Linked DNA regions of Homo sapiens. The protein of the gene in region 1 interacts with the protein of each later gene in a pairwise test. Each region holds a gene or a part of one and is shown on either strand. Other genes may lie near its edges.

Region 1 (7,023 bases):
GTCTACCCACCCACCCTCCCAGGGAAACCCCTCGGGGCTGGGGCAGAACCCAGGATGAATGAGTGCAGGCGAGCACCCAGGTGTGTTAGTGTGTCCTTGGTGCTGGGTCCACTGCATTTGAGAGGCCCATGAGTAACTACGTACATGGCTTGTGTGAGCCTATGGGTGTGGGAGTGGTGCCATCTGTGAGCTGCAGGGTGTTGGCATGGCTGAGTGTGTGTTTCCCTAGGTGTTAGTGTAACTCTGTGAGACGCCATGTGTTAGAATGACTGTCTGAGATTGTGGGTGTTGGGAGATGCTCTGCGTACATCTCTGACTGTTGCTACAACTGTGAGTTCAGATCTCCAGGTTGGTATGACTGAGTCTCCGGGTGTTGGCACATCCGGATGCATGTGTCTGCATGAGTCTCTGGAGAGTGGTGTGATGCTTGAGGGGACCCTGGGTGCAGAAATGACTGAGGCCGGGCGCAGTGGCTCACACCTATAATCCCAGCACTTTGGGAGGCCGAGGCAGGCGGATTGCTTGAAGTCAGGAGTTAAATACCACCCTGGCCAACATGGCAAAATCCCGTCTCTACTAAAAATGCAAAAATTAGCCAGGCGTGGTGGCTCATGCCTATAATCCCAGCTACTTGGGAGGCTGGAGCAGGAAAATCACTTGAACCTGGGAGGTGGAGGTTGCAGTGAGCCGAGATCGTGCTATTGCACTTCAGCCTGGGTGACAAGAGCAAAACTCTGTCCTTCCCCACCAAAAAAAATTCAAGCTGCTGAGTGAGGTGGCTCACACCTGTAATCCCAGCATTCTGGGAGGCACATCACCTGAGGTGGGTGGATCAGTTGAGGTCAGGAGTTTGAGACCAGCCTGGCCAACATGGTGAAATCCCATCTCTACTAAAAATACAAACATTAGCCGGGCGTGGTGGTGCAAGCCTATAGTCCCAGCTACTCAGGAGGCTGAGGCAGGAGAATCACTTGAACCTGGGAGGTGGAGGTTGCAGTGAGCTGAGATTGCACCACTGCTCTCCAGCCTGGGTGATGGAGCAAGACTCCATCTCAAAAAGAAAAAAAATGTTAAAACCAATAAAAATGTTTTAAATTAAAAAACAGGCTGGGTGCAATGGCTCACGCCTGTATTCCCAGCATTTGGGAGGCCAAAGCAGGAGGATCACTTGAAGCCAGGAGTTCTAGCCAAGCCCTGGCGGCATACCAAGACCCTTTCTCTACAAAAAAAAAAAAAAAAAAAAAAATTAAATTAGCCAGGCATGGTGGTGTATGCCTTTAGTCCCAGCTACTTGGAAGGCTGAGGTGGGAGGATTGTTTGAGCCCAGGAAATTGAGGCTATAGTGAGCTTTGATCACACCACTGTACTCCAGCCTGGGTGACAAGGCAAGATCCTGTCTCCAAACAAAAACAAAAATAAACAGTCTTTGGTTATCATCCATGTAACTGTGGGAGTTTCTGGGTATTCGTGTGACAGTGTGCACATCCTTGAGTGTTGCCTGGGGTGTTGGCGTGGCTGTGTCTGGAGGTATTCGTGTGACAGTATGTGCACCCTTGGGTGTTGCCTGGGTGTTGGTGTGGCTGTTTTTTTAGGTGTTTGTGTGACTGCATGCACATCCTTGAATGTTGCCTGGGTGTTGGCGTGGCTGTGTCTAGAGGTATTCATGTGACAGCATGCACGGTCTTGAGTGTTACCGGGTGCTGGTGTGGCTGTATGCACCTCTCTGGGTGTTGGTGGCTACGGGGGTCATGGCATGCATCTCCCTGGGGGTCCGTGGAGATGGGTTAACCTGGCTCTGGAGACCATGGGTGAGCCAGTGAGCAGTGGAATCCCTGGAGTCCCGCATCCCCAGAGGCATCCCAGCTCACCGTGGGTGGCCGCCGGGTCGGGAAGCACCACGTGGGCGTGCAGCTCCTGCAGCTGCTGGTGCAGCAGGTCGAGGCGGCGCGAGGAGCCCCGCAGCAGCAGCTCTACGGGGCCCAGGCTGCGGCCCAGGTCAGTGGTGGCCCGCCGCAGGTTCTCAGCACCCTCCTTCAGCTTCAGCTCCTTGCGGATTTCCCGCCGCAGCCGCTCCCGCTCCAGCTCCAGCTGCTGCTGTACCCCGGGGGCCGCCAGGTCTGCCCCGGCCAGGCCCAGCTGCTCTAGCAGGGACCAGCTGCGAGGCTCACTCTGCGGAGGACAGAACAGGGTCAGTGGAGCTAGGAGAACTCCAGGTGCAGACCACATGCAGCCAGCCTGGCCCAGCCTCTGCCCTGGACTGGGGCTCCCAAGACAGGGCCTGCTCTACCTCCTCTGACTCCCAAAACTGGAAGGTGACGAGGCCTTGCCACTGCTTCCTGACCTCCCCAAACTGGGAGGTCTCAAGAGCAGGGCCTTGTCACCCCCACCACCACAGCGTCCCCCACATTAAGGGGGTCTCAAGAATAAGATCTGTCTCCCTTCTGCTGCCTCCCCCAAACTAGAGGGTCCCAAGGGAAGATTCCTTCTTTTCTCTGCTGCTCCCCGAAACTAAGAGGGCCCAAGGGCAGGCCCTGTCTTCTCTCTGCTGTACCCCTAAAACTACAGGGTCCTGAGGACAGGCCCCATCTTCCCTCACTTGTACCCTGAAACTATGGCATCCCGAGGGCAGGCCTCATCTTTCCTTGGCTACACCCCCAAAACTAGGGTATCCCAAGGGCAGGCCAAGTCTTCTCTCTGCTGTACCCCCAAACTATGGGGTCTTGAAGACCCTCATCTGCTCTTCTCCTATGTTCAACAACTGGGACCCTAAAGAACAGAGCCCGGTCTCCTTCCTTCTGTCTCTCCCCAATCTGGGAGCCCCGAAGGGCACTGGATACTCTCATCCTCCAGAGAGAGAACTCTGAGGCCAGTGCCCCATCTCCTCTCCTTGTTCCCAAACTGAGAAGTACCCGGGGAAGGACTACTGGCCTGTGCCACTTGGGGCCCCCTTCTGCCTGCCCCCACAGGGACCCTGGACCCCACCTCCAGCTCCTGCTCCGAGGGGTTATTGGCCTCCGCCATCCTGGGTCCGGGCTGAGGGCCCCGCCCTCTTCCTGAACCTCAGCCCCACCAGGGCCTCTCGGCTGCCACTTCCTCTTTCCTGTCAACTCCCAGCACCCCTCGCGCGGGGCCAACTCCAGGGCATCTAAGGGACCTCCTGTTCCTCTAGATGAAACCCAGGGACAGTCCTTGCTCCCTGTCCCTAGAGAATGTCCAAGGTGCAGGCAGTTTGTACATTCACACACTCATGGTGTATCCATGAGGGGACGCAGGCTCCGAGGGCTGACTTGAGTGTGCACTAACTTTCAAATACATATGTGGATATGCACAGAACACAGGCTCACAAATGTTTGCACGCTTTCTTTTTCTTTCCTTTTTTTTTTTTTTTTTTTTTTTTTGAGACAGAGTCTCCCTTTGTGTTGCCCAGGCTGGAGTGCACTGGTGTGATCTTGGCTCACTGCAACCTCCGCCTCCCAGGTTCAAGCAATTCTCTTGCCTCAGCCTCCCAAGTAGCTGGGATTACAGGCATGTGCCGCCACGCCCAGCTAATTTTTGTATTTTTAGTAGAGACAGGGTTTCACCATGTTGGCCAGGCTGGTCTCGAACTCCTGACCTCAGGTGATCCGCCCCCCTCAGCCTCCCAAAGTGCTGGGATTACTGGACGTGAGCTACCGCGCCTGGCCTGTGTTTGCACAGTTATGGCTGCAGGTGTGTGCCTGCAACACAGGCTCACATGTGTGCACACTCCCATGCCTGTGTGTGTGGATGAAACAAAGATCCACACACAGGTGCACACTTCTACACCTGCAGGTGTGTGCCTGGAAAATGGGCTCACAGTGTACCCATTCCCATGCCTACCACATATGCACTTATTTGCAAACACATACAAGTGCTTATGAGCTTCCCTCTAGAACCCATACAAGACACACTCCCACCTGCCCGAGAGGGCATGGCCCACATGCTCATGCGTGTGCACATGCTCACACACATATGCACGCTCCCCGAGGCCCCTGCAGCACATCCATGCTCCCACAGACCTCCAGCCCTGCGACTACCTGCATATGTCCCTCCAGACTCTCCCAGCCACCCCTTGTCCCCGGCTTCCCCTTCAGGGTCAGAACAGCCACTTCTTCAGAGGTGAGGCCCCTTTCCTGCAGACGGGCCCTCCCAACTTCCTGCTTCCTCTCAGTCCAGTCGCCAACTGTTATTGACCATAGCTGAGAGGCCCGGGGTCCCAGCCAGCCCAGTGGCACCTCCCTCAGGCCAACACAATTAGGGGACAGCACTGGGGGACTGGGATAAGAATTTCCAAAACCAGGCCGGGCACGGTGCCTCACGCCTATAATCCCAGCATTTTGGGAGGCCGAGGTGGGTGGATCACCTGAGGTCGGGAGGTCGAGACCAGCCTGACCAACATGGAGAAACCCCGTCTCTACTGAAAAAAAAAAAAAAATACAAAATTAGTCGGGTTTGGTGGTGCATGCCTATAATCCCAGCTACTTGGGAGGCTGAAGCAGAATCACTTGAACCCAGGAGGCAGAGGTCGAGGTGAGCCAAGATCGTGCCATTGCACGCCAGAGCGAAACTCCGTCTCAAAAAAAAAAAGAATTTCCAATTTCCAAAATCACGCCGGGCGTGGTGGCTCACATCTGTAATCCCAGCACTTTGGGAGGATGAGCGAGGCAGATCACGTGAGGTCAGGAGTTCAAGACCAGCCTGGCCAACATGATGAAACCCCGTCTCTACTAAAAATATGAAAATTAGCCAGGCATGGTGGCACGTGCTTGTAATCCCAGCTGCTTGGGAGGCTAAGCATGAGAATCGCTTGAACCCAGGAGGTGGAGATTGCAGTGAGTCGAGATCACACCACTGCACTCCAGCCTGGGCGACAGAGTGAGACTCTATCTCAAAAAAAAAAAAAAAAAAAAAGAATGCCCCAAATCAGCAGCCTACAAAACCACTTGCTAAGCACACAGTAACATTCAAGAACAACTTATGATGGCATTACTTCCTGATAAGCTCATCATAAGTTGCAAATATCATAAGTCAAAAATGCATTTAATATATCTTACCTACCAAACATCATAGCTCACCCTGGCCTACCTTAAATGTGCTCAGAACACTTACCCAAGCCTATAGTTGGGCAAAAACGTCTAACACAAAGCTATTTTACAGTAAAGTTGAATATCTCATGTAACTTTTTTTCTTTTTTTTGAGACAGGGTCTTACTCTGTTGCCCAGGCTGGAGTGCAGTGGTGTGATCATGGCTCCCTGCAGTGTCTACCTCCTGGGCTCAAACAGTCCTCCCAGCTCAGCCTCCCGAGCAGCTGGGACTACAGGCATACGCCACCACACCTGGCTAATTTTTGTATTTTTCATAGACATGGGGTCTCACTATGTTGCCCAGGCTGATCTCGAACTCTTGGCCTCAAGTAATCCTCCTGCCTCGGCCTCCAAAAGTGCTGGGATTACAGGTGTGAGTCACTGCCCCGTGGCCAGGGCCTTGATTTAAAACAAGAGCACCCAGATTCCAAATGCTGGCTAGGAAATGGCCCCCTGGGGTTATCTCCTTCAGCTGGGAGCATCCATTTCACAGACAAGGAATGTTATCCTTGGCTCGTGACTGATCTCAAGCGCAGCTGCCCCCAGGGAGGAATGCCACAGACCAAGTGTATCACTCCCACCATCTTCCCAACCCTCACTACAAATCTTGAGCAGCTGCCAAGAACTCCCCACTTCACAGGTGAGGAAACTGAGGCTCAAGGAAGTCACAGTAGTATGTTTTGTTCGTTGGTTTGAGACAGAGTCTTGCTCTTTCGCCTAGGCTGGAGTGCAGTGGTGCAATCTCGGCTCACTGCAATCTCCACCTTCCGGGTTCAAGCAATTCCCCTGCCTCAGCCTCCTGAGTAGTTGGGACTACAGGCACGTGCCACTGCGCCTAGCTAATGTTTTGTATTTTTAGTAGAGACGGGGTTTCACATGTTGGCCAGGCTGGTCTCAAACTCCTGACTTCAAGCAATCAGCCAGCCTCGGCCTCCCAAAGTTCTGGGATTACAAGTGTGAGGCACTGTGCCTGGCCAGTAACAGTTTTCCATTGAGGGGAGATTTTCTCCCCATACCCGGGGACATGCGGCAACATCCGGAGACATTTTTGGTTGTCCTGACTGTGGGTAAGGAGGTGACTTCTATCAGGGTGAGGCCAGGGATGCCACTCAACGCCCTGCAGTGCACAGGACAGCCTCTACTGCAAAGAATGACCCAGCCCTGAATGTCAGTAGTGCTAAGGCTGAGAAGCCTACGGTTAAGGGTCATAGATTTGGCCAGGTGTGGTGGTTCACGTCTGTAATCCCAGCGCTTTGGGAGGCTGAGGCAGGAGCAGTGCTTGAGGTCAGGAATTGGAGATAAGTCTGGGCAACACAGCAAGACCTACAAAAATCTCTACAAAAAATAAAAAAGTATTGGCCAGGTGTGGTGGCTCTCTCTGCCTGTGATCCTAGCACTTTAGGAGGCCAAGGCCGGAGGACTGCTTGAGCTCAGGAGTTCGAGACCAGCCTGGGCAATAACGGTGAGACCCCATCTCTACAAAAAATGTAAGAATTAGCCAGGTGTGATGGCATGTGCCTGCAGTCTCAACTACTTGGGAGCCTGAGGTGGGAAGCTGGCTTGAGCCCAGGAGGCAGAGGTTCCAGTGAGCCGAGATCACACCATCACACTCCAGCCTGGCCAACAGAGCCAGGCTTTGTCTCAAAAAAGAAAAAAAGAGGCCAGGCGCGGTGGCTCATGCCTATAATCCCACCACTTTGGGAGGCCGAGGCAGGCAGATCACGAGGTCAGGAGATCTAGACCATCCTGGCTAACAAGGTGAAACCCTGTCTCTACTAAAAACACAAAAAAATCAGCCGGGCATGGTGGCGGGCGTTTGTAGTCCCAGCTACTTGGGAGGCTGAGGCAGGAGAATGGCGTGAACCCAGGAGGCAGAATTTGCAGTAAGCCGAGATCAAGCCACTGCACTCTAGCCTAGGC
Region 2 (6,852 bases), on another chromosome or scaffold:
ATTATTTTATTTTAGTGATACACCTAACTGTAAAATTTTCAGGAGCCACCTTACGGAATGAAAAGTCTTTCTCAAAACGCTTACTTACCCTCTTCAGTATTAAATATATAAAAATTAACTATTCACTAGTTATAGAATTTTAGTGTTGGATGGGACCTTAGAGATCTTTTAGTCAATTCTCTACCCTGTCAAGATAGTAATCTCTCATCATGCTTCTACTACCAGGCTTTCTGCCTATGTTTAAACCCCTCCAGTGACTCACTATATCTCATAAAAAGGCTGCTCTTTTCAAAAAAAGTTCAAATGTTTAAAACATTCTTTCTTTTATTATGCCAGAATCTACCTCCTTGTTGTTTCCATCCATTACCCTTAGTTCTTCAGCACTTTGGATTAATTCAACAGATATCTTCTTTGTATCCAAATGCAAACAGTTAATATTTATACTTGGGTTAACAAAAAAAAATTTATTTTTAAAGCCTATTCATACTAGAAGAGTTGAAAATAGGACATGAGAGAGCTAAAGGCATAAGAAAATGCACCATTAATTGTGTCTGCTTAAAATTATTACACTTTGTTATTTATTAATGTGATATCCAAAACAGTAGTTCTGTTGGAATTGTGTATAAAATTTTTAAACTAAAAAAGTGTGCTGAATTCCAATTTTATGTGAGGTTTGTGATTAATGTCCCAAAACAAAAAACCACTATACAAAGCCTGAATAAATGCCTCTTCAGCTCCTATTCCCCACCTAAAAGCCTCCTTATTTTCAGGCAAAGTAACATTAATTTTTATGACATTAAGCTACTCAAAACTGCTATTATATTGATAAATCATTTGTAAGCAATTTACTGAATCTTCCATTCAAAAGTTATTGAACAATTCTATAGAGGCTATAAGGCGCACGCACACACAAACCCCTCAGTTATTATTATGCTTTTAACAAAAGCATTTAGGAGCACAATCTTACTTCAACCAGTACCTTAAACGAACCAATGAACAAACTTCTTTGGCAATTTACATATACCTAAGAAATATAACCTTTTATTCAGTACCAACACCTGATTCAAATACAAGTAACATATATATATATACTATATAAACCTATCTGTTATGCAATCCAAAAAGGTACCTCTCAAAATGCACCAAGAAAATACTGTACTTATAACAATTTAGACTCTGGGGTTAGCTGACTGAAATAGATTAATACAACACATCCAAAACTAAAAAATTCTATATCTAACAATTTTCAGCGTCCATGAGTCTCTTTTGAGATTAGTTTATAAACTATTTCCTGAAATTTTTATTTAAAAGCAACAGCCTACACCATGTCTTTATGATGTGGTGGTAAAATTTTATGGATAATTACTAATTTGGTTGAAAATACCTACATCTAAAAAACTTAGCCTATTACATTTGGAAGCCCCACATCTATAGTGACAATCAGCATCATCTTTCGTTAGTTTCATTTTTTGTTATTAATGCCACTCTAAAACACTTATATAGGCTTTTGGTTCTTCAAATAACAGTTTTGGATTTTCTTTTCATAATTTTTACAGTTTTATCCAGTGGCCCCATTTTATCAGAATATTACAAACTATGATTATGGTTTTTACATTGATGACATGTTATTTTTATCTCACCCAAATTCTGGAAATTTTTGGCCCATCAGTTCTCAAACACTGGAACATATAAGAAGAGTAATATAATCTTATATTACTTGAGGGAGTTTGGATTTTCCCTCCCTTAATCTCCAAGTGTACCCCTGCCTACCAGCATCACATCCGTCTTGTCTGCATTGAACCTCAACCAGTTGGTTCTTAACCACGTCCGAAACTCAGCCAGGCACTGGGAGAATCGAGCGACCACACCATCTGGATCAAAGGAAAGAGAGCCTCAGTAGCAAGGAGACAGAAACGATGATACAAGCTCACCATCCACCCTGTTTCGCATTTTTAAAAAGATGGTCGGGAATCAGGACAAGGATCCCATGACAATTTTAGAAAAACATTTAATGAGCCTTAAGTCATGCAATTTGTAACTAATGATAAAGGAATAAAAGCGACCCAATAAATAGGTCGCCTCATTCCACCCATAAGTGAAGAAGGTTCAGTCAACTCCGGGTCATCTTGGTGAAGCGGCCTCAATAGCCAAGTCAATCTTGTAATTACATAAGTTCTTCTGCAGAAATGCAGAATTCTAGCGTTGGAGGAAGCTTTAAATAGGGAAAACTGAAGCCCAGAGAGGGATAGTGACTCGCTCAAGGTTACACAGCATGCAGGGACCACAGATAGGCTCCAGGCCAGGGACCTAGCCACTACAAGCTGAAAGAACAAGAGTAAAGAGCGGCGGGCATCTGTCCCAAGGGATCCTCCCACGCGCTAGGAGGACCTCGTTTCCTTACAGTAATACCCTATTCGAGTCTCTCCTCCCTCCCTGACTCCATCCGAAAAGGGCAAGTTGGCCCAGGGCGCTGCTCACCATAAAGGCTGCAGTGCAAGCGAGAGCCTCCCGGGGATGGGACACAAGTGAGGGAAATACAGGAGAAAGAGGCGGAGCCACAGCAGGGTGGTCAGCTTAGCCCCACCCCGACTGGGATCAGGGACCGAAGCGAACGGGGCGAGGCGAACTCACTCCGCAGCGGATTCCCAGCGCGGCGCCACCACCGCGAAGGCAAAAAGGCGGCGCTGGGAGGCAGTCGATGGCCAGAGGGAGGAAGCTGCGCATGCGCCTTTGGCAGCCGGCGGAGAGCAAGCCAGGCGCGTTCTGCGGCAGCCCCTCCCCGGAAGTTAAGGGTCTTCCGGGCGGTACACTGCCGTGGGGGAGGGGAAGGAGAGAAAGGGGACTGAGGACACCTCAGGAGCCCCTCATCCCAAACTGGAATAGAAGGGGAGAGATGGCTTGTGGAGGCTGCACTTACAGCCGCTGCCGCTGCTGCCGCCGCCACCTTCGCTGCTGCCGCCACCGCCTGAAGAAGCCCCATCCATCCGCCTGCAGCCGGGAGACTCAGAGCCTGGGAGGGGCCTGAGGCCCGGGCCGCCCGCCTCCTTCTTCCAGTCGTCGTCCGGAGCTTCCTCCAGCTCCACCAACCCTCTGCCCTCCCCTCCGCCTCCGCCCTCCTCCTCGGCCTCGTGCCGCCAGCCAACCGCGCGGCCGCTTGTTGAGCCAGGGCTCCACCGTCGCCATGACGCCCGGCAAACATTCCGGAGCCTCGGCCCGAGCCGCTAACGGAGGAGCTTGGGGGTACAGGGACTTCAGAGGCGGCCAAAAAAAGGGGTGGTGCACCACTCCCCAGCTGGTCGCCACCATGCCAGTCTCTCCGGCAGGCAGTCACAAGCAGCAGAACTTCGGGTTGTAAGTTCCGGCGCTAAAAACCGTAGTCCATCCCCCTGGGACCCGGAGGGAGCCCTTCTATTAATAGATACCATTTCTGGATTTGGAAAGGGGCCCTACCCTAACTGGGTTCAGTCTGTAGACCTTGAAGCTCCTAGGCCACAATGTCTCCTTTATCGACCTACCGCAGTCTTTAAAAGAATCTCTACTGGGCTGGGCGCGGTGGCTCACACCTGTAATCCCGGCACTTTGGGAGGCCGAGTGGGGTGGATCACCTGAGGTCAGAAGTTAGCGTCCAGGCTGGCCAACATGGTGAAACCCCGTCTGTACTAAAAATACAAAAAGTTAGCCGGACGTGGTGGCACATGCCTGTAATCCCAGCTACTTGGGAGGCTGAGGCAGGAGAATCCCTTGAACCCGGAAGGCGGAGGTTGCAGTAAGCCGAGATCGTGCCGTTGCACTCGAGCCTGAGCAACAGAGCGAGACTCTGTCTAAAAAATAAGATAAAATAAATCTCTATTGCTGTGCTTGCTGTGTGAGAAAAGACCTGGTTTAGAACCATCGTTCTAGCACTTCTAGTTTGTTAAGGCCTGCAGTCTCTCAAGCTTGATGCTTTCATGCTGTGCCCAGACGTTCAAGAGCCTCAGCTTCTGTGAGCCACCAGGCCGAACATTGCTGTGCTCTGTAGTAGAGGTATTTTATTGTCGTCTCGTCAATACCATCTTACTTTAAAACTAATTCCTGCTTCCAACATTCTGTTGTTATGCAGCAGTTGAACAAGACTGTAGAAAAGCACACAGCTGTGTGGACTTGTCTTACTTTAAATGGTTCCTTAGCGCTGCCCGTAATGCTGCCCACTAAGTTCCCCCAAAATTCCCTAAGTAATTTGTTTTCTCTTCCCCTCTCCAATCTCCTCCACCTCAGCTAATCTTTCTTCAGCGGAACTTGTTGAGAGTTCTTGGGAGAGAACCTTGCATTCTCTCTTGAATATGGTACTCACGCTTTTGTCCATCCTACCACTCCATCAAAACAGCTTCTATGAAAGCCAGCAATAGCCATGCAACCAAATACAATGGCTGATCCACAGTTTCATTCTTTTTGAATGAAGCAGTGTCGGTCGGGTTTATCGCTTCTCGATCTTTGAAAAGCTTTATTTGGGTTCTGAGAAACCACTCTTCCTAGTTCTTGTCTTGGTTCATGGTTTCACCTTTCCCAGATCCTTTGCTGGTATCTGTTCCTCACTACCATAACTAAATACAGTCATGCATCGATGGTGATACCTTCTGAGAAATACCTTGTTAGCCAATTTCAGCATTTTGCAAATATCTTCTAGTGTACTTACACAAACGTAGATGTATGGGCTACTATACACCTAGGCTACAATTGTATAGTAGACTGTACACCTAAGCTATAGTAGGCTATACATCTAGGTTTGTGTAAGTACACTAAATGGTGTTTGCATAATGATGAAAATGCATTTGTTGCTTCTAGGCTACCAACCTGCATAGCATGTTACTGTACTGAATACTGTAGGCAATTGTAACACAATGCTAAGTATTTGTGTATGTAAACATAGAAAAGGTAATGTCTTGTGCTTGAATGTTGTGACAACTACAACGTTGTTAGACAATAGGAATTTTTCAGCTCTGCTACCAGATCACCATTGTATATGTGATTCATTGTTGATGATCCAGGACTGTATTGGTATTGCTGGGTTAGTCCATAAACCTCTTCACTCTGATGTCTTTAATATCACCTATAATGATGATTCACAAATGTTAATCTCTGGCTAAGACCTCTCCCAAGAAAACAGATTTTAAGAAAAAACACCTGCACTTATAAGTTAATAAACATCTCAAACCAAATATATAATATTTTCTGTCTTTTCTAATTAACTGCAATCTTTCTCATTTTAGTAAATGGCAAATTCCACTCTTTCACTTACTCAGGGGAAAAACCTTGGGATTACCCTTGACTTCTATCTTATACCTCACTCTATAAGCAAATTTTACCATTTCTACCTGCCAAATAAATCCAGACTACCACTCCCATGTAAATCACTGTGTTACATTGTGATACCCACCTAAATAGTCTCCTTGCCAACACCCTCCAGGTAGTAATCAATGTGGTTCTGCTCAAAACATTTCTCAAGTTTTTTCCATTTCACTCAGTAAAACTCTTTACAGGGCCCCACAGGATCTCACTATAGACTCTTCCTCTTGCCTAATTACATCCCACGTTGTCCCACAACACATCAGACACACTATATTCCCCCTTTGGAGCCTGTGCATATGCAGTTTTTTGGAATATTGTGCCCCCAGATAACCTCATGACTCACCTCCTTTAGGTAACTGTGTCAAAGAGTCCTTTACCACCCCATATAAAGTAATAATACTTCACCTTTGGAGCTCTTCAGTCCCTCACCTTTGCTTGAATTTTTCCATAAAATTTATTCCTGCCAGGCACAGTGGCTCATGCCTGTAATTCCACCACTTTATGAGGCTGAAGTGGGCAAATTGCTTGAGCTTGGGAGTTCACAACCAGTGGGCAAATTACTTGAGCTTGGGAGTCCACAACCAGCCTGGGCAACATGGCAAACCCCCATTTCTACAAAACATTGAGCCAGGCGTGGTGGCATGTGCCTGTAGTCCTAGCTACTTTGGAGGCTGAGGTGGGAAGATTACTTGAGACCGGGAAGGTGATGTTGTAGTGATCCGTGATCACTGCCATTGTACTCCAGCCTGGTCGACAGAGTGAGATTCCACCTCAAAAAAAAAAAAAAAAAAATTTCTACAAGTTTATTGTGTACCTGCTTATTCATCCATCTTCACCTAAGGATAGTACTCCAAAAAGGCAGAGATTTTTGTTTTGTTCACTACTGTATCCATTGCCTAGATTGAAGAAGGTGCTGAATAAATATTTGCTGAATGAATGAGTGTTTACTTCAGTAACATTGGTTACTGCTTATCTTGTATGGTTTTTGTTTTCACCTTAAGGTATAGAAATTTTAATGTAAAATTAAATTGAGTTTATTAAATTGAAAAATACAAAAACTGTCCAACTCTCATAGTATGATGTCTAAGAAAAATTCCTTTGGGAGTTTCTTAAATGTTGACAATTTCATAACATCTATTAAGGAAAGAATGGGGTGGGAGACGGGAAGTAGTATAACCTTCACTTTTTGCAGTAGCCATGTTACCTAATTAAAACGAAGTTTCACAGACAAGTTTACAACCTTTTGGTTTGGCCTAATTTGTTATTTCTCATCTTCCTTCTTTTAGGACTTAATCCTGACCTTGGAAAGGATCTCATGAAGCAAATATTTGTCAGTTTTCCACTTTCTCTTTTCCTGTGTTAGATTCTTGCCTTTAGCTTTACAATACTGGACAAGTCTCCCATTGCAATAAAAATAACTGCTGATTGTTCACCTCTTCATCCTATTTCTCTGTCCAGTGCCTTTATATTCCTTACATGTTCTTGTTTCCTTTTGATTCTTATTTAATGTTTTTATCTCTGCTTACA
Region 3 (7,209 bases), on another chromosome or scaffold:
GTTACTCATCACTTCCCCTGCCCCTCCCAGTGGTCCCCTTTCCCTCACTTCCAGACACAGAGCCATCCCAGCACCTCCCCTTTTCCTCCCCCCCAACCCGTGGCCCCTTCTCTCACCTGCCAGTCCAGTTCTCCATCGCTCCCCCTCTACTGCCCCAGGGGGAGGCAGGAGCGGACTGGTCACAAAAACTACGCAGGCATCTGGGCGTGGAGGGTGCTCTCTGCAGGGACAGAAGCCTGGTGGTTACCTCTCCAGTGTCCAGAGAGCTTGGGGCTGGGAGGACAGCTCAGAGAATATGGAGGAGGGGGTGAAACTGGTCCATCCCTTTAGGATCCTCAGGGTGGGAGCAGGGAGGATCACTGCCTTGTCCATCTGTAGAGGCTACATGGTCAGGGGCTGACCTCAGCCCTCCAACTAAGGCTCAGTCCCCACCTCTGGGCCCTGTAGGGGCTTCTTAGCTCCTCCCCAAATCCTACCTAGGGACTGTTTCTAAGCCGGCTCAGGCACACACAAAAGGCTTTTTTTTTTTTTTTGAGATGGAGATCTCACTCTGTCATCCAGGCTGGAGGGCAGTGGTGCCACCAAAGCTCATTGCAGCCTCAAACTCACAGGCTCTCCTTCCTCAGCCTCCTGAGTAGGTGGGACTACATGCGTGCACCACCACACCCAGCTAATTTTGGTATTTTTTGGTGGAGATGGGATCCAGCTAAATTGCACAGGCTGGTCTTGAACTCCAGGCCTCAAGCGCTTCTCCTGCCTTGGCCTCCCAAAGTGCTGGGATGACAGGTGTGAGCCACCGCACCCAGCCAGAGGGCTCCTTCTAAAATGGTTGTCATCTGCTCCCACTCCTGCCCTCCCAGAGGTGCCTAGAAAGTAGAGGAGGAAGGCTCCACTGAGGATGCGCCAGACACTCTCTCTGAGGACCCACCAGAAGCCCCTTCCTTGGGTCTTCCAGACACAAGACCTTCCCCAGTCATCTCTCTGTCCTACTTGCCTCCCGGCTTTCTCTTCCCTTCTTAGATAAGCTCTTTAGGGAACATCCAGGCACATCTCATACACTTTTTGGCCAAGGGATAAGCTAAATGGGTTGACGGTTTAATCTCTAGAGAAGAAGCCGGCAATGTAACACCCACTCTGGGTGCCAGCATCTGGAGTTGGTTCAGTGAGGGCTTGTTTCCTGTGCGTCTCTACCAGCTGGGGAAGCGGGAAGGAGAGGTGCAGCCGGGGCTGCCTCATGCCCCAGCCACAGGCCTCTCATTCTGAAGAGCCGGGAAGTCCATCTGAAGTTCAGCTTTGAACACTGGAGAAGTGAGGCTTGGAAGCCACCCCAGCCACCAAGCCTGACTCTCTTTGCCCCCTTCTTCTCACTTTGAGTCCTTCCCACCCCTGCTCCTCATCCCACTCTTAGTTCTGCTTTCCAGGAAAAAAAAAATCTGTTTCTGTTGGATCTGAAAGGCACCCGGGAGAGGAATCCAGGGAGCCCTCGCATTGCTGAGGTGGGCCAGCTCTGGGGCAGAAAATGACCAAGAGAAGGGTAGGAATGTGCCTGGGGGCAGACACTCAGCCCCACTGCCCTCCCTGAGACCTAGGGTTCGGAATTTGAGGGAGGGGTCAGAGTGGCTGAGCCAGAGCGGGCGCCTCAGGGATTGGGGTTGGGGTGGGGGTTGCCGATGGCCACTCCTTCCCCTGGCTGGGCCGGCCACTAAGGTCAGCAACTCCACCCTGACTGAACGGGGGAGGCCAGGATCTCCAGAGAAGGGCCCATGTTCCACCCAAGTCTTCAGGCTCTGCCTGACTCTTGTTACTCCAGCTGAGGGAAGAAGAAATGGGGTGATAGTCACTGCCTGCCCCTTCTCTGATGCCGACCCCTCTTCATGCCCTCTCTGCCTCTGCTTCTCTCTGCCACCGAGATCTCTTCTCGCAGCCCCTCTCCACGGGTCTACCCAGTACACATAATCCCATCCCGAGCTGGGTTTGGCTTTGGCAGTTCCCTGGAGAAGTGAGGGGTGGGGGTGACGTGAGCTCCCGGGGCCCGGGCCAGGCCTGGCTCCCTCTCTGGAAAAGTCCCACCCCACCCTCCCCTGCGCAGCCCGGCAGGGGCCCATGCCCCCTCCTCTGCAGAAACACACGCACATTTATGCTTCTCACCCCTTTCCATGTCCCTCATTTGGTGTCGTTCCCGGCCCAGGACGAGGAAAGGAGAGGTCAGAGGTGGTCACTCTGGTGCCAGAGTAGACCCTGGTCTGGACAAACGCGGGCTCCTCCTGGCCACACCTCTCCACACTGCCCAGTGAAGACCAAGGAACAGAGACCTGCGCAGGGCTCACCCCTTCACCCCCAGGTCTCCCTGCTGGAGAGTGGTTGGACCCTGTGTTTCTGGGCCTAGCCATGGAGAATCCCTGTCCTGAGTCCGAATTCCCGGGCCCTCAGAGCCCTCCACTCCTGGGTCTGGCAGGCCACCCCAACAGGTGTCTTTCTTTTTTGTCAACCTCTTCTGCCATCGGGCTGAGCTGGATCAAGGGCACCCACCTGCGTCCCTCGCGGCGACCCTGTCCTCCAAGTTCAGGAGTGCAGTGGGGGACACACCGTCCGAGAGCACCCTCCTAGAGAGAGGGCAGGAGGCACCGGCCGCGCGGGGAGGTCATGGGTCTGTTTTCCAACTTTACTATGTGACTTAGGAGGAATTTTGGTTCACTCCCCGCCCGGGTGATGGGGCCAGAGTTCCACGGGATCAGACTCCCTCCCCAGGAATTCGACCCCAGGGGCTGGAAGATTGTCCGAGGCCACCGGAGCTGGGTCCGGGGTCGTGGCGGGGTCGCGACCGCACAGCGCAGGGAGAGGGGACGACGCGGGCGCGCGGGGCGGGCGGTCTAACGGGACCCGGGAGAGGGGCGGCCGGGGCCGGGGTCCCGGGGAGGTCTCTACCTGCTCTGCGAGCCCCCGGTGGCCCGTTAACCCTTCTGCGCCCAGGCGCTCTCTCCAGGCAACCTCGCTCCGCGGCGGCCACTGGGGCCCCTGAGCCGCGCTCCGGTCACGGCCGCCTCGGCCGCAACTCCGCCCTCGCGCCCGCCCCCGCCCAGCCCCGCCCGCCACGCGCCCCAGCCCGCGCCCCTCGGCGGCCCCGGGGTGGGGCCGGTCTGCCTCGCAGCCCCACTCGCCAGGACCACCCACCCCGGGCTGCGCGCCGGGCGCCCCCCGACGGCTGCGTGAGCTGAAGCCCGGGCTGGCCCAGCCGGGGTCGGAGGCTGCAGTCGCTCCCGGGCGCTGTCCTCGTGCCCGGCCGAGACTAGGGACTTAAGCAGCCCGGGCTGGCCCAGCCGGGGTCAGAGGCTGCAGTCGCTCCCGGGCGCTGTCCTCGTGCCCGGCTGAGACTAGGGACTTAAGCAACCCGGGCCTCCGAGCCGCTCGGGTGAGCGGTGCGAACACGGCGCGGCGCGGCGCGGCACAGGCGGGGCAGCCTCCAGGGGCGCCTGGAGCGAGGCGGCCTGGGAGAGCCGCTGGTCCGGGAGGGAAGCGCCCTGGACGGAGGTACCCGCGGCCCCCGATCCGCGTGGGTCCAGGCTCTCCCCTCCACGCAGCCTCCCCTGCAAACTCAGTCACTCCTGCCTCTCCCGTGTTGGGCAGTGGTGGTTCAGATTGCTGGGACTTCTATGAGCTTCGGTTTTTTTCCTCAGTAAGGTTTTACACTCGGGACTCAGCGAAAGGACAGCGTGCTGACTTCTGAGTCAGACTGATCTGGATTTGAACCTCAGCTCCAGCTCTTGCCAGCTATGTGGTCTTCGACGAATACTTCCACCCCTGTGTGGTGCAGTTTGCTCATCTGCAAAATGGGACTAATCTAATATATATGATGGGCTTGGATATGTCTCTTTATGCATTTATACATGGAAGAATGCACCCCAAACTCAGTAGTATTGGTGACATCTGGGGAGGGATGCAGGGTTGGGGGAGGACTGAAAAAGGCTTTTGCTTTTTACTCTGCGTTATGTTTATTATTATTATATTATTATTTATTTATTTTTTTTGAGACGGAGTCTCACTCTGTCGTCCAGGCTGGAGTGCAGTGGTGCTATCTTGGCTCACTGCAAGCTCCGCCTCCCAGGTTCACGCCATTCTCCTGCCCTAGCCTCCTGAGTAGCTGGGACTACAGGCGTCTGCCACCACGCCCGGCTAATTTTTTGTATTTTTAGTAGAGACGGGGTTTCATCGTGTTAGCCAGAATGGTCTCGATCTCCTGACCTCGTGATCCGTCCGCCTCGGCCTCCCAAAGTGCTGGGATTACAGGCGTGAGCCACCGCACCCAGCTATGTAATGTTATTTTTGTGAATTTTTTTAACCACAAGAGCAATCCATCTATTAGTTTTATCTTTTTTTTTTCTTTTTTTTTTTGAGATGGAGTTTCACTCTTGTTGCCCAGGCTGGAGTGCAGTGGCGCGATCTCGGCTCACTGCAACCTCCGCCTCCCAGGTTCAAGTGATTCTCCTGCCTCAGCCTCCCAAGTAGCTGGGATTAGAGGCATGCGCCACCATGCCTGGCTTATTTTATATTTTTTAGTAGAGACGGGATTTCTCCATGTTAGTCAGGCTAGCCTCCAACTCCCGACCTCAAGTGATCCTCCTGCCTCGGCCTCCCAAAGTTCTGGGATTATAGGCGTGAGCCACCGCGCCTGGCTATTATTTATTATAAATAATATATGTAAGCTGGGCATGGTGGTGAAAGCCTGTAGTCCTAGCTACTCAGGAGGCTGAGCGGGGAGGATTGCTTGAGCCCAGGAGTTTGAGGCTGCAGTGAACTATGATCGTGCCACTGCACTCCAGCCCCTGCGACAGAGAGAGACCTCGTCTCAAAAAATAAACACATAAATAAATAAAATATGTAAAATGGCTGGCATAGAGTAGACAATAAATGGTCACTGCTATTTTTATATTTTACTTTTTTTTTTTTGAGAAGGAGTCTTGTCCTGTCACCCAGGCTGGAGTGCAATGGCGCCATCTCAGCTCACTGCAACCTCTGCCTCCTGGGTTCAAGCCATTCTCCTGCCTCAGCCTCCTGAGTAGGTGGGATTGCAGGCACGAGCCACCACGCCTGGCTAATTTTTTGTATCTTTAGTAGAGATGGGGTTTCACCATGTTGGCCAGGCTGGTCTCGAACTCCTGACCTCATGATCCGTCCGCCTCAGCCTCCCAAAGTGCTGGGATTACAGACATGAGCCACTGCTCCCGGCCTATATTTTTACTTTCTATTTACTGACGCGTTGTATTTTGTTGGGTCTACTCAGTGTTTTAAAGGTTTTTGTTTGTTTGTTTTTTGTTTTTAAGACAGGCTAGTTTCAAACTCCTGGGCTCAAGAAATCCTCCTTCCTTGGGCTCCTAAAATGCCGGGATTACATGTGTGAGCCACTGGGCCCAACCTAAAGGCACATTTTTTTTTTTTAAATAACTTGTCAATACGTATTTTAAAACCTGGATATTTTAAAATTTCTCTTGAAAAACTAAAACACAAAAATAGAAGCTCTAACAACATTGTCCTGCATCCTCACAAAATATCAGAGGTCTTTGGTTCCCCACCTGTCATTTTTTGGGCGCCTTTTGCACTTGGTGTTGAAGAAGCAGCAAGAAGTCTCTGGCCTCAAGGAGTTGGGTCTGATCAGGCACAGACACGGCAGGTAATGGGGTCATGCGAAGGTTAATACTGGGCTCAGCTGAAGGAGATGTTATCTCTAAGAAGATGATGGATATGAAAACGTAAAATGCTTTCAAAATGTAGGAATTGGGCCGGGCGCGGTGGCTCATGCCTGCAATCCCAGCACCTTCGGAGGCCAAGGCGGGCGGATCATCTGAGGTCAGGAGTTCAAGACCAGCCTAGCCAACATGGCGAAACCCCATCTCTACTAAAAATACAAAAATTAGCCGGGTGTGGTGGTGGGCGTTTGTAATCCCAGCTACTCAGGAGGCTGAGACAGGGAGAATTGCTTGAACCTGGCAGGCGGAGGTTGCATTGAGCTGAGATCATGCCACTGCACTCCAGCTTAGGTGACAGAGCGAGACTCTGCCTCAAAAAAATAAAGAAAAGAAAAGAAAATGTAAGAATTGTGTCCCGAGCTGGGTACAATTGCAGGCACCTGTAGTCCTGGCGATTCGGGAGGCTGAAGTGGGAGGATCACTTGAGGCCAAGAGTTCAAGTCCAGCCTGGGCAACATGGCAAGACCCCATATCTAAAAAAAAAAAAAGAAGAAGAAAAAAGAAAGGAGAAAAAGAATTGTATCATTATTTGAAATTTAACATGCATATTTTTTCTCGGTAAATCACTAAGTTCTTTCAGAATAAAGGACTATTTATGCTACTTTGTATCATCTATACTTTTTCCTATTTTATATTAGAGTTTTGTTTTTTTGATAAGTCACTGAAACAACAACAACAACTTGAAAACACGAAGTACACCACGAAACATGAAGCGGGTCAGATTGACCTGCGCCTCTGGGAGGTGCCTCTCCTCATCCTCCATCTGAGTCCTGAGTTCCTACATGGGTTGAGAAGATAAAAGGTTAATGCCCCTCCCAGAGGGGTGGTTTATCTAGGGACTCCTGGTGACAACCTGGAGACATATTTATAGTGCTAGCTTTGAAGGGGAAGCCCCTTTCCCCAGACCTCAGAGTATGATATAGATGATGAGAAGCCCAGCCTTCCGGGCAGAGGAAGATATTTTGGGCCAGGGACCCTTCAGTCCTGGCCCAGTCACACCTCATCAGCATTCACTTATCTACAGGGAGGGAAGCTGCAGGACAGGAGTGTGGGAGGGGAGCCTGGGAGGAGAGAAAAGGTCTGCCTTTGACATTTGTAACTGCTGAGAACTGAAGGTCAGATACAGTCCTTTCCACTAAGAAATGGCTGCTCACCGAAGAGCTCATGAGATTTGCTACTGCTGTCACCTCTCATGGCTTGGTGGTCTGAAAATATTGTAGAAAGAAAAGAGTTTCCTATGCCTCAGCAACTTGTGAAATACCAGATTAAGTTTGTGGACACTGTCTCCAGGATAAAAAGTTTTTAGGCTGGGTGCGGTGTCTCACACCTGTAATCCCAGCACTTTGGGAGGCTGAGGTGGGTAGATTGCTTAAGCCCAGGAATTTGACACCAGCCTGGGCAACATAGCAAGACCCTGTCTCAAAAATAAACAAATACATAAATAATTTTTAAAAAGAAGTTTTTAAGG
Region 4 (7,478 bases), on another chromosome or scaffold:
CATGATGGAGTAACAGAGACCAGACTTATCCTCATGCTTTCAGCATCTTTTTTTTTTTTTTTTTTTTTTGAGACAGAGTTTTGTTCTTGTCCCCCAGGCTGGAGGGCGATGGCACGATCTCGGCTTACCGCAACCTCTGCCTCCCGGGTTCAAGCAAGTCTCCTGCCTCAGCCTCCCGAGTAGCTGGATTACAGGCATGAGCCACCGTGCCCCGCCTGCTTTCAGCATCAAAACACAAAACACATGAAGCAATGGCTTTTAGATATTGGACAACAGGCAGTTCGGGAGAGTGATCCTTGAGAAACAGGAAATAAAGTGAGCCCTATGAATGGACATTGCCTGGAACTTTCAGGCCTCGGCATAAGGAGGAAACTCTCTGATTTAAAAAACGGAACACAGGCCGGGCGCGGTGGCTCATGCCTGTAATCCCAGCACTTTGGGAGGCCGAGGCGGGCAGGTCATGAGGTCAGGAGATCGAGATCATCCTGGCTAACACAGTGAAACCCCGTCTCTACTAAAAATACAAAAAAATTAGCCGGGCGTGGTGGTGGGCGCCTGTAGTCCCAGCTGCTCGGGAGGCTGAGGCAGGAGAATGGCGTGAAGCCGCGAGGCAGAGCTTCCAGTGAGCGGAGATCGCGCCACTGCACTCCAGCCTGGGAGACAAAGCGAGACTCCATCTCAAAAAAACAAACAAAAAAAAGGAACACAGCATCAGTGAGCTGTGGAACAAGATCAAGTGGCTTAACACATATGGAATTGGAGTCCCAGATTTTTTTTTGAGGGGATCAGGAAGAGGACAGTGAAAACAAAACAAAAAATAGTAATAACAGAGGTTTTTGTAGTGAAGCTTTTGAAATGATGGAAAAATTAAGGGACTAGAAAACCAAGACCTTAGAAGGTGTCTGTCACGAGAGAGCAAGCACAGGGTACTATATAAGGCTTAGCCTGGGCCAGGCACAGTGGCTCATGCATATAATCCCAGCACTTGGGATGCTGAGGTGGGTGGATCACTTGAGTCCAGGAGTTCAAGACCAGCCTGGGCAACATGGTGAAACCGCATCTCTACAAAAACATACAAAAATTAGCTGGGCATGGTGGCACATACCTGTGGTCCCAGCTACTCAAGGGGCTAAGGCAGGAGAACTGCTTCAACCTGAAAGGTGGAGGGTGCAGTGAGCTGAGATCATGCCAACGCACTCCAGCCTGGGTACAGGGCAACAGAGTGAGACTCTGTCTTAAAAAAAAGGAAAAAAAAAAAAAGTCTGGGCGCAGTGGCTCACACCTGTAATCCCAGCACTTTGGGAGGCTGAGGCGGGTGGATCATGAGGTCAGGAGATCAAGACCATCCTGGCTAACACAGTGAAACCCTGTCTCTACTAAAAATACAAAAAACAAAAAACAAACAAAAAAAAAGCTGGGCGTAGTAGTGGGCGCCTGTAGTCCTAGCTACTTGGGAGGCTGAGGCAGGAGAATGGCATGAACCCGGGAGGCGGAGGTTGCAGTGAGCCGAGATCGTGCCACTGCACTCCAGCCTGGGCGACAGAGTGAGACTCTGTCTCAAAAAAAAAAAAAAAAAAAAAAAAAAGGTTTAGTTGGGGCAGGGTGGGACACTCACTACCCCTTGGGTTTCCACAGAGGGAAGGAAATTTTTACTTTCTCAGGTTAGGGGAGAAAGTCAACAGTTCTTGATAGGAAAAAAAAGGAAAATCTTTTCACCCTCTTTTGGCCTTAAAATGATCATTTCCTTATATTCTTTCCAAATAATCTTCAGTACCGTCTAGGTGGCATACATAAGTGCTTAAACTTTTCTTATTCTTTCTATAAGGGAAGTACTTTCCTACTTCCTATATTAATAATCTCCCCACCCCCGAAGTCTTCAACTCCAGCTGATAGTTTTAAACTTAGAACATTCTTTCCTATTTGTTTTTAATAATGCTAGATAATGTATTCAAAATAATCTTAGTATCTGAAGAGGAAATGAGATTATACATTATTCCCTCTAACATAACTTCTCAGTTTGTTATTTTGTGCATTTAAAAAATTACATTTCCGAGGATATGTGCTCCTTGTGTCCTCTAACCTCTTAATCTAAAATAACAGGGACACTTAATTTTTTTTGGTATCTAATTATACTTACAAAGTATATGATATCTGAAAATAAATGCGACAAAATATGAGACCATGTAATAACACGATGAAAAGACATTGGAAAAACATGGCATTTATATTAAATGTATTTTTATGACTAAATTTGTTCTACACAAAAGTTGTTTATCCCTGCCAATGATATCTTGTGGGGGGAAAAATGAGTACTCACCTGGCGAAAACAGGAATTGTTAGTCTCCTCAAACGAGAGCTTACTCTTGAAATACACAGCGTTCTACCATATCAAGGTCATCAGAGAATTGCTGTAAAAACCTAGTGTCTATGTCATCTGCAGGAAAAGGAGATAAAGTCACCATTATCATCCAGAAGCTCTTGAGTTATTTAAGAAGGGACATGGTAGGTATTAAGAAAAATTAAGAAGACTTTTTTCCCCCCCATTCTGGGCTCCAAAAAATTGGTAGAAGAATGCAGCGCTCATTCTTTTTCACTAAAAAGCTCATTTGTCACTTTAAGGTGAGGGGATTTGGAAAAGGACTGGCATGTGGAGAAGGAATATCGGTCAGGAATCTGGACTTTGTTGCTAGATCTGCCACTTCCTGATTCAGCCCTGATCGTGCAGAGCTGACCAAGGCCGTGGTCCCCAGGCTCCCCTGACTCCAGGCTGCCCACGCTCACCGGGACAGGCCGGCTCGCTCCCTGCAGGCTGCAGCGGGAGGGCTGGACCTGGAAGCCTCTCTTAAAACGGGCCCTGGCTGCAGCAGGAGCTGCGCCCGAAAGCAGCTCTGAGAGTAACCGGTTCACCGAACATGGGTCCAGAATGATGCCCAAGCCCTGGGAAAAGTGGCACAAAGCCACCGCCGCGAAGCAGCAGGTGTTTCAAGCTGAGGGAAGGCGGGGCTGCGAGAGACAGCCTTGCGCATGCGCGTTCCATCCAGGTGCGGCAGCCTCAGGCAGAGATTAAGAAATGAGTCGTGGAAAAGGGGGCTAGCGGCTGGTTACTAGGAGACGGGACGCTCGGCTCGGGCGTCTAGGCGCTGCGTGGGCGTGCGCCTGCGCGGCGCGGATGGGCCAGGAAGGGGTCCCTCCTAGGTGCCCTGTAAGGCAGGCAGGTAGACGTACGCGTCGCTCCGTGCGTAGGAGCGCGCGCACGGCTTGTAGACCCCGCGAGAAGGAAGGTCGAGCCAGGTACGCGTGCGCACCGGGCCTGGGGGCGAGCGGGACGGAAGCAAAGCTGGGGCGCCGGGGAGGTGGAAGACGAGCCCCACTCCGGTACAGAGCGTGAGGGCGGGGCCACGGCGGCACTGGCTGGCGCTAACCGCCCCCTCCTCCTTCCCGCGGGCTCCGTCCTTCCTCCGATCCGCCGGGGCGGGGCCAGGACGATTTGGGGGTGGGAAGGGAGGAGAAAGGGGCGGAGGATGGAGAGTGGGCGGTTCTTGTATCCCCCGCTGAGGCCGAGAGCTGACAGTCGCGGGGATGAGCTCTGGGCAGGACGGCGGGCCGAGGAGCCCGGGGAGGGACCCGGAGCTCCAGGTAGAAGCTGCGGAGGTGCGCGGGGTGGGGAGAGTGCTGCTACTGGACTGGAAGGTCTCTGAGAAGGCGGCTGCAAGCGGGCAGGAGTGGCGGGTGCGGGGCCGTGGCGGGCGGAGTTGGGCGCTAGCAGCGGGAGCGGCTGTGAGGGGCAGCGGCGGGCACAGCTGCCGGCCGGAAGCTCGGCAGCACGAGTTGCCCCTGTTTCTTGGGAGGTTAGGTTTGAGCCCAGTTCCTATGGTCACTGCTTCGCGTCCTCCCGCAGCTCTCCGCTTGGTTGTTGGGGAGACTGTTCAGTTTAGAAACGCTCTGGAAGCTCTGGTGGAGCCGAGGAATTTGGAAGTCACAGATTTGGGAGTTCAGCCTGACTCCCGATCGCTCATTTCTGAGCCTCTTTCTAGACTTGGGGTGGTGAAAGGCTGAGATTACATAGGCATTTGCATGAAAATCTCAGATAATTTTAGTAAAAATTATACACAGTAAAGGCAGGGAAAGCTGGCTTTTGTTGAAAAACTATTTGAGACTTAAATTGGATAACTAGGTGATCATGGACTTGATACCTAAAAACTCACAGAAATATGGTTTTTTTTCACTTTTTTTTTTTCGCAGCTTCGGGAAAGTTTGCATAGATTATAGTGTCCCAACGTTTTCCTTCTTCCATTCCAGGACCTTATATCCTAGGAGATTTCCTTGTTTAAAATTTTCTGTACTGGTGTTCAGCATTTCAAGTATACTTTGTTTACGTGTAAGGACATAAGTAGAATAACAATAGGTTTGTAAGTAGAAAAAAACAGGTTAGTTATAGAAGTAGGATGTCGCATTCGAATCTGCTTCCAGGATAAGACAGATTCTTGTTTGTATTTTAATTGATTAATGAGCCAAACTCTTCAGTCTTAATTAGTGGGAAATAACTAGGACGGTACATTAATTAAATATTAATTTTAAATCCTAAACTTTGGCATTATTTAATGGCAGCTTCCACAATATCTCGCGTACTGTTTACCTTCTGAAGAAAAATCACTGCCTGTAGCCCAGAATATAATCAGGTGTAGAGATTCTCTGGGAGATCTTTTCTGTCTTCTTTTTGAGTTGCTTAGACTAGTTTGTTTAGGACGATTTGGTTTTGAAGTCCTCCATACACAGAGGCAGTTAGAGGTATTACTATTTATCACCTTTTCAGATTACATATTTCTTTCCCTCCCCAGAGATAGCCACTCTCCTGACTTCTAAGATAGCCACTTCCTTGATTTTCCTTAATGTTTCACATCATTGTATGTGAACATGCACATTACAGTTTGGCTTGTTTTTGAACTTCGAATGGAATTGTACTAAGTATTCATTTACATCTTGCTTCTTTACTCAACATTTTTTTTAAGATTAATCTTTATTGTTGCTCGCAGTATTTAGTTTGCTGATTGTTTCCCAAAATATTTATCCACTTATTTTTATTATATAAAATACTCTCTCAGAATTATTCATAAATCTTGTATGGTTTTCCACATCCTTCTGTTAGTGAGGCAGTTCCTTTCTACTTCAATGTCTATAAGTCTACACTTTTGGAGACAATATTTTTAAAAAGAAAAACCCACCTCAACTGTAGTAAGCTTTTGTGGAACCAGATTTCAGAATTCCATTGAAGTACTCCAGTATTTTCCATTCTATCAAAAAATCAATAATTTGTTGAATACATATTATGTGCTTCATATTTTGCTCAACACCGATGATACTTTTTATTATATAATCTTAGCTCCTGTTTCACTGAAAAATTAAAATTCAACCAGACAGAAACTTCCTCAGATTTCCATGACACTTACCTTTTTTTTTTGAGACATGATCTCACTGTCGCTCAGGCTGGAGTGCAGTGGTGCGATCATGACTCATTGCAGCCTTGACCTCCCGGGCTCAAGTGATTCTCCTATCTCAGCCTCCCAAGTAGCTGGGACCACAGGTGGATGCCACTATGCCTGGCTAATTTATTTTTTAATTTTTGTAGATACAGGAACTCACTATGTTGTCCAGGCTGGTCTCAAATTCCTGGGCTCAAGTGATCCTCTGGCCTTGGCCTCCCAAAGTGTTGGGATTATTGGGATTACAAGTGTCTAAATCTTCACCTGTCCTTGCTTTTGTCTTTCTTGTGTCGGGGCAATACATCTTTATCTGGGTTTCCTCTTATTACCTCAGCTGTCTTTCTCCATCAATTAACATTAACTCATGCCTTAGGAATCTTCATTGTTTCTGTACTGTAGGGCTTCTTCACCTGGAGTCCAAGGACCTTATAGAGTCTTAAATCCCCTGAAATTGTTTGTAAAGGTGTATTTGCATTTTTCTGAGGAGAGGATGCAGGACTTTTAATTCTGAAAGAGGATCCTTATGTAAAGAGAATTAAGGAACAAGTTTTTCTCTTCCCATAATGACGTTTCCACAACCTTGGTTGTCTTCCACCTTTGTTGTACCTCTCTTCCTCTCACAATCATGCTTCCTAAAAGAAGTTTACATTTTCCATTTCTTTTTCTTTACTATTCATTCATTAGTCCCCTTCAGACTTGTTTTCACCCACCATTGAAACTGCTTTGTTCGAATCATTAAATTTTCTTATTTTGAAAATGTTTTATTGCGTTTCACCTTTGTGCTGGGCACTTTTAAGGCATTAGGGATAAAACAGAGACAAGACAAAAGCCTAGAGCTCTTGAATTTTATATTCTAGTATGGGGAGATAGTAAACAAGTCAGCAAATGATATAATTTCAAGTAGTGATAAGTGCAAATAGCTTATCACTTATTTGAGAGAGTGACTAGGAGAGAGGCTACTTTAGGTAAGAAGTCAGGGAAGACCCTCTGACATTTCAGCCAAAGAGCTGAGGGTGAGAAGATAGCCATGTGAAAGGCTGGGTAGAAAGTGTTCCTGAGAGAGGAAAAGCAAGAGCAGAGGACCTGAAGTCAAATGTTACTGGCAAATATCTTAGTCCATTCAGGCTGCTATAATGAAATAACATATAAGCAACAGAAATTTAATTCTTACAGTTCTGGAGACTGGGAATTCTAAGATCCAAGTTGCCAGCAGAATCAATGTCTGAGGTTTTTTGGTTCATAGATGGTACCTTCAGACTCTGTCCTCATATGTTAGAAGGGGCAAGGGAGCTCTCTGGGGCCTATTATATACAGGCAACTCATCATGGCTGTGCCTTTTTTTTTTTTTTTTTGACATGGAGTCTCACTCTGTTGCCCAGGCTGGAGTGCAGTGACACGATCTCGGCTCACTGCAATAAATCCCTTCTAATTTATTAGCAAATGTTGTTGGTTCAAATATATATCCTAAATCCATCCACTTCTCTATATTTTTGTTACCACCTCCCTGGTCCAAGTCACCATCATCTCCCACCTAAAATACTGCAACCATTCCCTGCTATCTTTCCGCTTCCACTGTTGCTCCCTACAACCTATTCTCCACACTGATATCATATCAATCACTTCAAAATAATGAGATCCTGTGGGAGGGGAGAAGGGAGAGGGAAAAAAAAATGAAAAAGAAAATTATAATAAGATGATCCTGGCTCAAAAATACACCAATGGCTTCCCACTGCAATTAAAAATAAAATCCAAACTTTGTAAGGCCTTACATGATTTGGCCCTTGTCTTCACTTACAAGATCTAGTACTCCCTTCTTTGTTCGCCCAATAGCTTTTTCTTTCTGTTCCTCTAATGTGTGGCTTCAGTCCGAATTTCTGTGTCCTCACAAAATTTTTAGGTTGAAATTCTAACCCCTAAGGTGATCACATTAAGAGGCAGAGTCTTGGCCGGGTGCAGTGGCTCACGCCTGTAATCCCAACAGTTTGGGAGGCTGAGGCG

Evidence for each region.
Region 2: the proteins of PKN1 (region 1) and MIER1 interact in binary tests that used the Homo sapiens proteins (3 or more experiments, as listed by UniProt).
Region 3: the proteins of PKN1 (region 1) and ADAMTSL4 interact in binary tests that used the Homo sapiens proteins (3 or more experiments, as listed by UniProt).
Region 4: the proteins of PKN1 (region 1) and C2orf15 interact in binary tests that used the Homo sapiens proteins (3 or more experiments, as listed by UniProt).

Annotation. Positions count from the first base shown.
Region 1 is NC_000019.10:14,436,289-14,443,311, reverse strand, and holds part of PKN1 (serine/threonine-protein kinase N1), read right to left. Parts: intron 3,036-7,023; exon of another isoform or gene 3,022-3,035; coding exon of another isoform or gene 2,983-3,021; intron 2,170-2,982; coding exon 1,869-2,169; intron 1-1,868. UniProt on the Homo sapiens protein: PKC-related serine/threonine-protein kinase involved in various processes such as regulation of the intermediate filaments of the actin cytoskeleton, cell migration, tumor cell invasion and transcription regulation.
Region 2 is NC_000001.11:66,921,161-66,928,012, reverse strand, and holds the start of MIER1 (mesoderm induction early response protein 1), read right to left. Parts: upstream 3,024-6,852; 5' UTR 2,985-3,023; coding exon 2,918-2,984; intron 2,681-2,917; exon of another isoform or gene 2,479-2,680; intron 1,872-2,478; coding exon 1,771-1,871; intron 1,680-1,770; exon of another isoform or gene 1,641-1,679; intron 1-1,640. Other genes in the region: DNAI4 (dynein axonemal intermediate chain 4), read left to right, coding at 3,182-3,351. UniProt on the Homo sapiens protein: Transcriptional repressor regulating the expression of a number of genes including SP1 target genes. Probably functions through recruitment of HDAC1 a histone deacetylase involved in chromatin silencing.
Region 3 is NC_000001.11:150,545,216-150,552,424, reverse strand, and holds the start of ADAMTSL4 (ADAMTS-like protein 4 isoform 1 precursor), read right to left. Parts: upstream 3,018-7,209; 5' UTR 2,926-3,017; intron 2,604-2,925; 5' UTR 2,530-2,603; exon of another isoform or gene 2,149-2,529; intron 2,136-2,148; coding exon of another isoform or gene 1,365-2,135; exon of another isoform or gene 1,149-1,364; coding exon of another isoform or gene 1,134-1,148; exon of another isoform or gene 221-1,133; coding exon of another isoform or gene 137-220; coding exon 117-136; intron 1-116. Other genes in the region: uncharacterized protein LOC124904417, read right to left, coding at 1,365-2,135. UniProt on the Homo sapiens protein: Positive regulation of apoptosis. May facilitate FBN1 microfibril biogenesis.
Region 4 is NC_000002.12:99,137,241-99,144,718, reverse strand, and holds the start of C2orf15 (uncharacterized protein C2orf15), read right to left. Parts: upstream 3,013-7,478; 5' UTR 2,782-3,012; intron 2,435-2,781; 5' UTR 2,318-2,434; intron 1-2,317. Other genes in the region: TSGA10 (testis-specific gene 10 protein), read left to right, coding at 3,580-3,651.